Homo sapiens: one gene and its partner. The protein of the gene in region 1 purifies or fractionates together with the protein of each later gene. This does not show direct contact. Each region holds a gene or a part of one and is shown on either strand. Other genes may lie near its edges. The genes, in order: FAM135B and STK26.

Region 1 (3,918 bases):
CTATTCTGCACTTTGCTTTTTCACTTAATAAATCATGGAGCTGTTTTATCCAGACAATACATCCAATACAAGTAAATCCTATGCTCCTGGCATATCTCTACTGCTGGGGACTAGAAAATGCAGAGGAAAATAATGAGTGCTTGCACTGACTTTCAAAAATAAGGTTGCATAAAAATGCAATGTCAATAGCAAAATAAATGCCATATGGTTATGAACACATTTAAGAGACAAATATTGTAAAAGAAAAGCACCCATTTTCTCTATTGAGAAATTCATATTTATTTGCCATTCACCAAACATTTACTGAGGGTATGCATTGCCCTGGGCTTGCTGGGTGCTGTGGGGAGGACAAGCAGGGTAGATAGCTCAGAGCCTCCATCTGCCCAGGCCCACTATGTCAACAGCCTCCTTAGGACACCTCTTTCTGCAGCCTTAATCCCCACCCTAGCCAGCACCACACACACTTCAACTAAGGTGATCTTCCCTTCATTCCCACCCAGCCTTTCTCCTGCTTAAACTGCTTCACTGCCCTCCTCCCCACCACCTTCCCCATTCCCTTCCCATCCTAAGGGTCACATTGTCAAATTCCAACCCCTTCACTTGGATCGCAAGGCCTTTGGTGTGCAGTGCCTGCCCTGTAAACCTCACCACTCGCCTGCCTCACCTCTCCTTGCCTGCTGCTGCTAGGTTCCTGCTGTTCTGTCCTGCCTCCAGGCCTCTGTACCCTGCTCCTCTTGTCCTGGAAAGAGCAGTCTTCTCTACCCTTCACCGCCCCACTCATTTGTTCTTATACCTTTTTTTCAGGTATCTTTCCCCAATTACTTGCCCCTGCCCCCAGCCTGACAGGGTTAGAGACTCCTCCTGCCAACTGCAATTGCCTGGTTCCATTCCCTGCTTCCTCCTGGGGTGTGAGTTAGTGCAGCCCAGTCTAATGGGGGACATAGTCATCCTCTAATGCCTGGTTCCATTCCCTGCCTCCTCCTGGGTGGAGTTAGTGCAGCCGAGTCTAGTGGACGGGTCACTGGGCTTCCGAGTCCCAGTCTTGGCTCCTTCTCTAAGGCTGTTTTGTCATCTGTCACAGGCATGCCACGAGAACTTGCCAGCACAGTGGTGGTGATAATTAGAGTTCCCAATGCCCCTTAAGAATGCTCAGTAGACGGGAGCTGGCTTAACCCTCCCCAATCTTCCTCTCCCTCCTCCGTGGACAGAATCTCACACGTCTGTGAACCCCCACGTTCAGCATGAAGTGAGGAGCCCATCGGATGACGGGCCGGCTGGCTGGTTGAAGGCCACTGCTGACTTCGCATTGGAGGTATGGGTTGCTCAGCGCTTTTACCCTTTCTCAGGCATCTACTTGTTGCCTGGGCTTCTCTTCCAAGTTCAACAGTCCCCTCCCAGCCAGTTCTCCGCCGCGCCCCGCCCCCGGATATCTGCAGGGACCCTTTTCCTGCCCGAGGCCTGGGGTCTTGGCTCGAGAGGGGAGCCCCGCCGCGGGGACTGAGCATGCTCGCGCCGGTCAGTCTGGGAGGGCCGCACGCGGGGCCGCAGCCTGCGCCCTGGGCACCCGGGCGGCCGAGCGGGCGGGGTTTGGCCGCCGGGCGGCCCGCCCCGGGCTCCCATCAGGGCCTCGCGGCGGAGAGGGACCGAGGTGGGAGCGCGTGAGCCGCGCCGCCAGCCAGTCGCGCAGCGTCTACCCACGCGGTGCGCAGCGGCTGCGGAGCGGAGCCAGCGGGAGCAGCAGGGCGGGCTCTCCCGGCCGCGAGGGCGCGCGGCGCGGCGCGGAGGGTCTGGCCGCGTCCCGGCGGAGGAAGGAGAGGAGTGAGGGCGCCAGAGGTGAGCGCAGCCCGGGAGGCGCCAGCCCAGCGGCGCGGGCGCAGCCGGTCGGTCCTTGCTTTCTTGCGGCGCTGGCGGCTGCGTTCCCCCGACCGCGCTGACAGCCTCGCGTCCTGGCGCCTGCTCGCTGGGGCTGCCCGGAGGCCGCGGCCGGGCAGCTGTTGCACGGAGAGGGGGGCAGTTGCGGGGTTCCATAACCATAGCAACCGCATCAGCACCGGCGGCGGCGGGCGAGGGCAGCATCCGCTCGCTCCTCCTCCAGGCAGCCTCGCCGCGGGGACCCAACACCAGCTCGCAGGTGCTGCGGACTCCCCAGTCCGCCCGCCGCCGCCGCCGCCGCAACTGTTGGCGGCCAGAGACGGCGAAAGAGGAGAGAGAGGGACCCAGGAGCGCGGCCCCCGGGGGAGAGAGAGGGGAGCCCTGCAGTGGAGACAGGTAGGTGAGAGCGCTTCGGGGTCGGCAGCTGCAAAACTCTCTCGTCGGTGGTAGTGACGCTTCTGCAAGCGTGGTTGCCAGTTGGATGGCTTTCTGTCACGGAACAGCGATTCCGCCGCAAAATGTGGTTTATCTCCCTCGATTTTCCCCAGTCTCTCTGCCCTCCAGGTTTGCTGCACATCTGGACAGGTCTTGAGGGGATAAGAAGGGCCAGGGCTGTGAAAGGAGCGGAGAGGCTGGGTTAATGAGGGGTTCCCCCCAGGAGTCCCAGATGGAGGCTGAGGGGGCGCATGCAGACCTTGGCCATTGGGGTCCTTGGAGCCAGGGAACCCGGGGGCCAGGCTCAGGAGAAGACCGCACTGGGGTGGAGGGGACAGTGGCAGCGATTCCCTGTGATCCAGGCGAATGCACAGACCCGTTCTTCCTGTGGCTTGGCTGGGGACAGGGGTGTGCGGGGACACTGCAGCTCAGCTGTGACATGGAAAGGGACCAGCTCTTGATCTGTAGAGCCAGCTTCAAGCCCAGTCACTGGAGGGGATGTTTAGACGAGGCAAGTAGTAACTGTTATTATTTTGGGACACAGGAGTATCATGTTATTGCCGTTGACTATTAGGGATAGGATGGGAATAGAAATAAAATTTTGAGCTAGCAGTCAAGACTATGCCCTCCCCTTCTCCCCACCTCATTTCTAGCTCCCCACCCCACTTTGCCAGCAAAACAAGAATCACATCGCTCATAGTGACAATCCTTGCTCCTTGGCCACTGGCAAACTATCTCGCTTTCAGACAGCTGGAGACACCGCTTCAGTTGTCCATTTGAACCAGGGGGCATTGTTTTCCATCAGGTTATGATGCTCTTGATGTTAAGTGATGTGTCAAAGCCGAGAGGCACCTGGGCTGTCCATACAGTGTGATGGACTGTTAACTACATCTGCAGGCTGGAGAGAGGGCCAGAGCTTGGGGAGTGATTACAAACTCAGATCAGCTGGGACCAGGGCCCCGGAAGAAGGAAGATAGCATGTGAATAATTAGGGTCTGAAAGTTCGTGCATGTAGGTAAGTAGGCCTCTGAATAATATCCAGGATAGGCAGCCATTGACTTTGAAAGGGCTCTTCCTTTATATCGTGGCCTCGGGGGACAGTCTAAGTCCCAGTTAAAAGGCTATGTTCTTTAATTGGGCTTTTAATTTATGGTGTGGTTATGTTACCCAAGGGGATGTGATTTGGCCAACCTCTCATCTGGAGATTTATGTCATAATATGGATGATGTTATCAGAGCTTAGACAGATGGTTAGGTGTAGAGGAAAGTGGACCAGATTGGAGGGTCAGAAAACATGGATTTGAACTCTGATTTCCTCATGCACCTGCTGTGTGACCTTGAGTTGTTCCACCTCACTGAGGCTTCTTTCTCTCATCTGGAGAATGGGGATACTAACTAACAAGTCTTGCAGTTTACCAGGCTCAATCACAATCCAATGGGATGTGGAGAGGATGTTTGGGAAGGGCTTTTTAAAACCTGATGTCTTGTGCAAGTAAAAGGGATTATTGTTTTCTAAAGAATCTCTCTTCCTCAGATTGGCAAATCATTAAACATCCATCAACTACGAAAAGAGAGTGGAAATATTAGTCAGTGACTCACAGTGGAAACACTG
Region 2 (3,818 bases), on another chromosome or scaffold:
AAAATTCACCGAGACATAAAAGGTATACAAAAGTCTAATATGAACCTGAGAAAAATAGAAGCATTCTGAGCAAGCTGAGTTTTTTTTTGCTTTTCTTTTTTTCCTCCTAGCTGCCAATGTCTTGCTCTCAGAACAAGGAGATGTTAAACTTGCTGATTTTGGAGTTGCTGGTCAGCTGACAGATACACAGATTAAAAGAAATACCTTTGTGGGAACTCCATTTTGGATGGCTCCTGAAGTTATTCAACAGTCAGCTTATGACTCAAAAGTAAAGTATTACCTGTACAAACTGTTTTGGGCTTGTTAATAAATTATATATGGCACACTATCCTAGTTAATACACTGCCTTATTTTTCCTTGTTTCACAAGTGTTTCTTAAGCTAGAGTTATGTCATATTTTGCTGCTTAATCATAAATTCCCTCACAGCTAACTAATATTTGGACCCTATTCACTTCAATGGCTTTTCATCCCACGTGGAATAAAATCCTAAGTCCTTTCTGTGACATATAAAGCTCTACACAATCTGGCCATTATCTGCCTTTCCAGTCTTATCTCCTACCACTCTCTTCTAGATTATTCATCCACAGTGGCCTCATGGTTGTTCCTCAAACATAGCAAGTACACCCTGGCCTCAGGACCTTTGCATGCCCTTCCCTCTGTCTGAAAAAACCTTCTTCCCACAATCAGGTCTTTGCTTAAATATCACCTACGCAGGGAAGTCTTCCCTGGCCATCTTATGTAAATTTGCAACACCCTTCCCCCCATGATTCATTATTCTCTTACTATGCTTTGTTATTTTCTTCACAGAAGTTAGCACCGTCTGGCACCATATTATTTATTTATTTATTGTCTTTCTTATTAGAATGTAAACCCCTTAAGAGCAGGGATTTTTGTCTGGCTTATACACTACTGAAATCCTCCATTCCGAGAAGGGTACCTGGCACAAAGTATGGAATTCATTATGTTTTACATAAATGAATTCTACTAATAAAAATTTATTAACACCACATTTTCTTGAGAGACAAGTACTGTATAGCCATTAGGTTCCACAGACTATTTTGTGGTAGTATATTGGAATGGAGTTTCAAGGTGATATACATACATACACATATATATATATATATATATATATATATATATATATATATATTATTTTCTTTTTCCTTTTACGTTAGGCTGACATTTGGTCATTGGGAATTACTGCTATTGAACTAGCCAAGGGAGAGCCACCTAACTCCGATATGCATCCAATGAGAGTTCTGTTTCTTATTCCCAAAAACAATCCTCCAACTCTTGTTGGAGACTTTACTAAGTCTTTTAAGGAGTTTATTGATGCTTGCCTGAACAAAGATCCATCATTTGTGAGTATATATTGCTATTATTACTATTTGTTTTCTATTATTAGATCTACTTATAGCAAAGGCAGCTTTTCCTGCAGTAGGGAATACAGTGTATGTGAGAATTGTCTAAGATCCATCCAGGAACCTGGTTCGTCCTTCTGTATTGCTATTTCTATTGAGTTCTTAACCAGATTCTTCATTCTTTTTCTCCTTACCCTTCGTTTTTTTCTTGATCCTCAGCTTCCTCCTTATTCTATTCATTATTTCCTCTTTCAGGGGGAAATAAATTTGAGAAATAAAGTTAACTTTATATTATGTCATTATTAAAGTGTATGTATAAATACAATGATTTTTGTTCAACTGTTTTCATTTTTCATGAAAAGTTATATTTGGGTTTAACTATTTTTTTTTTTTGAGATGGAGCCTTGCTCTGTTGCCCAGGTTGGAGTGCAGTGGCATGATTTTGGCTCACTGCAACCTCCAGGTTCAAGCGATTCTCCTGCCTCAGCCTCCCAAGTAGCTGGGATTACAGGCACCCGCCACCATGCCTGGCTAATTTTTGTATTTTTAGTAGAGATGGGGTTTCACCATGTTGGCAAGGCTTGTCTCGAACTCCTGACCTCTAGTGATCTGCCCTCCTCAGCCTCCCAAAGTGCTGGGATTACAGGCATGAGCCACTGTGCCTGGCCAGGTTTAACTATTTTTATTTGGTGTTTAGAAACTTCAATGTGAAGTTGTATACTTTTCCTAGGCTAGTGAGCTCCATTCATTTACTTGGTGGATTCTATTACAGTTGTTTTACTGTTGTTGAAATAAAGCTGCCTTGTGACTTTTTGAGACGAGAAATACACAAGAGCAGTCCAAACTTGATATAACTATTTTTAAGTTGATGATAAACATTCTCATGTTAATAAAATGAAGGCGGAACATCCTCCACAGCACCTGGTGTTTGCATTTAGATGCAATAGACATTGATTTGTGATGGAGAAGGGATTATATGTGTAGATAATAACAAAATTACAGCCTTGCAAGTTTTCATCAGGTTTTTTCAAATTTACAGTAAATGTGATTAAAGTATTTTAGAACACTACTTTGAAATGTTTTTAAATGTTTACTTTCTAAATACTGTCATGTGTCTCTCTGCTTTTGAGAAGGCCCTGCCTGCCAGTTTGCTGGTGGGTAAGCCACCTGCTGCCCGTTGGGCTTTAACAAATTGGGACACCAAAGTAGTAGATTCAATGTGGTTGCCTTGAGCCACTTCAATAATAGAATTAGCTATTTTCCTACAGCATTTTAGTTGTTCTTATGTCTACAGACATACCTTTATACCTTTCAGCTTAATAATTCAAATGATTTTTTTTACCATTCCTTGTAATCATAAGAGTTCAACAATTGTCATATGCAGCCTTGATCTTTTTATCCTTAGCGTCCTACAGCAAAAGAACTTCTGAAACACAAATTCATTGTAAAAAATTCAAAGAAGACTTCTTATCTGACTGAACTGATAGATCGTTTTAAGAGATGGAAGGCAGAAGGACACAGTGATGATGAATCTGATTCCGAGGGCTCTGATTCGTATGTACAAATTATTTAATTTTTATGTAGGCAGCCTATTTAAATATTGTATATCTTTTAGCTATGCTCCAGTGTGCTTGTTCTAGCATAAAATATAAACCATATTTTGAAATTTCACCTTAGAAACTGTAAAAATCTTTTTCAATCACAGTCTGTGGAATACAATGGAGTTGGAAACATGTTTTTCTTGGAAGTGAATAGCTCTAGTTTTAAATGGTCTTGGTCTAACCCCTAGTGGATACTTGAGTATATTACAAAATTTTGGAACAGGATTCAATTAAAGGTGTTATATTAGTTTGCTCAAAGTAATAAGGAGCTGTGTTTTCTCATACTTTGATGGCAACCTGCAAAATCCCTCTAAAGAACTGACCTCCAGGCTTTTCCCACCTCTTGGCCATGTACCAAACCAAGATCAGACTGATACATTTAAATATTCATTTATGCATGATTTTTATTTCTTGAAAAAGTTGTAGGGTTTTATAACAGCAGCGTTTACATTAAAAATTCAGCCTCTAAGTCTGTCAATTAATTTAGACTAGGAAAGTCTGTATGCTATGCCAGAATTTAGTCCTCCACCAGCTGAACTGGCACAAAGGCAACACCAAATTTCTTTAGATACTACTCTGAGATTCTTCCATTTATGAGAAATTGTCCAATGTTGGAAAGGGATAAAAAATATCAGAATAATTTGTGCCCTATTCTAATGGGTGTTAGCCTTAGCTTCCCATAAGAGTCACTCATGGAACCTTAAAGCAATCACAAGCCACACCACTGGAGATCCTGATTCAATAGGTGGGGAGTAGTGAGGGACAGGTATTTATCTATGGTAGGAGGTCTCAATGAAGCACACACAGAGTTGAGAACCACTCCACTACTACTCTGTAGTAAAATGTAGTATTCGC

The links.
Region 2: the proteins of FAM135B (region 1) and STK26 purify together in Homo sapiens (affinity purification with mass spectrometry; one large-scale study listed by BioGRID and IntAct). This does not show direct contact.

Annotation. Positions count from the first base shown.
Region 1 is NC_000008.11:138,495,021-138,498,938, reverse strand, and holds the start of FAM135B (protein FAM135B), read left to right. Parts: upstream 1-1,677; 5' UTR 1,678-2,268; intron 2,269-3,918.
Region 2 is NC_000023.11:132,068,302-132,072,119, forward strand, and holds part of STK26 (serine/threonine-protein kinase 26), read left to right. Parts: coding exon 1-22; intron 23-110; coding exon 111-268; intron 269-1,176; coding exon 1,177-1,362; intron 1,363-2,767; coding exon 2,768-2,916; intron 2,917-3,818. UniProt on the Homo sapiens protein: Serine/threonine-protein kinase that acts as a mediator of cell growth. Modulates apoptosis. In association with STK24 negatively regulates Golgi reorientation in polarized cell migration upon RHO activation.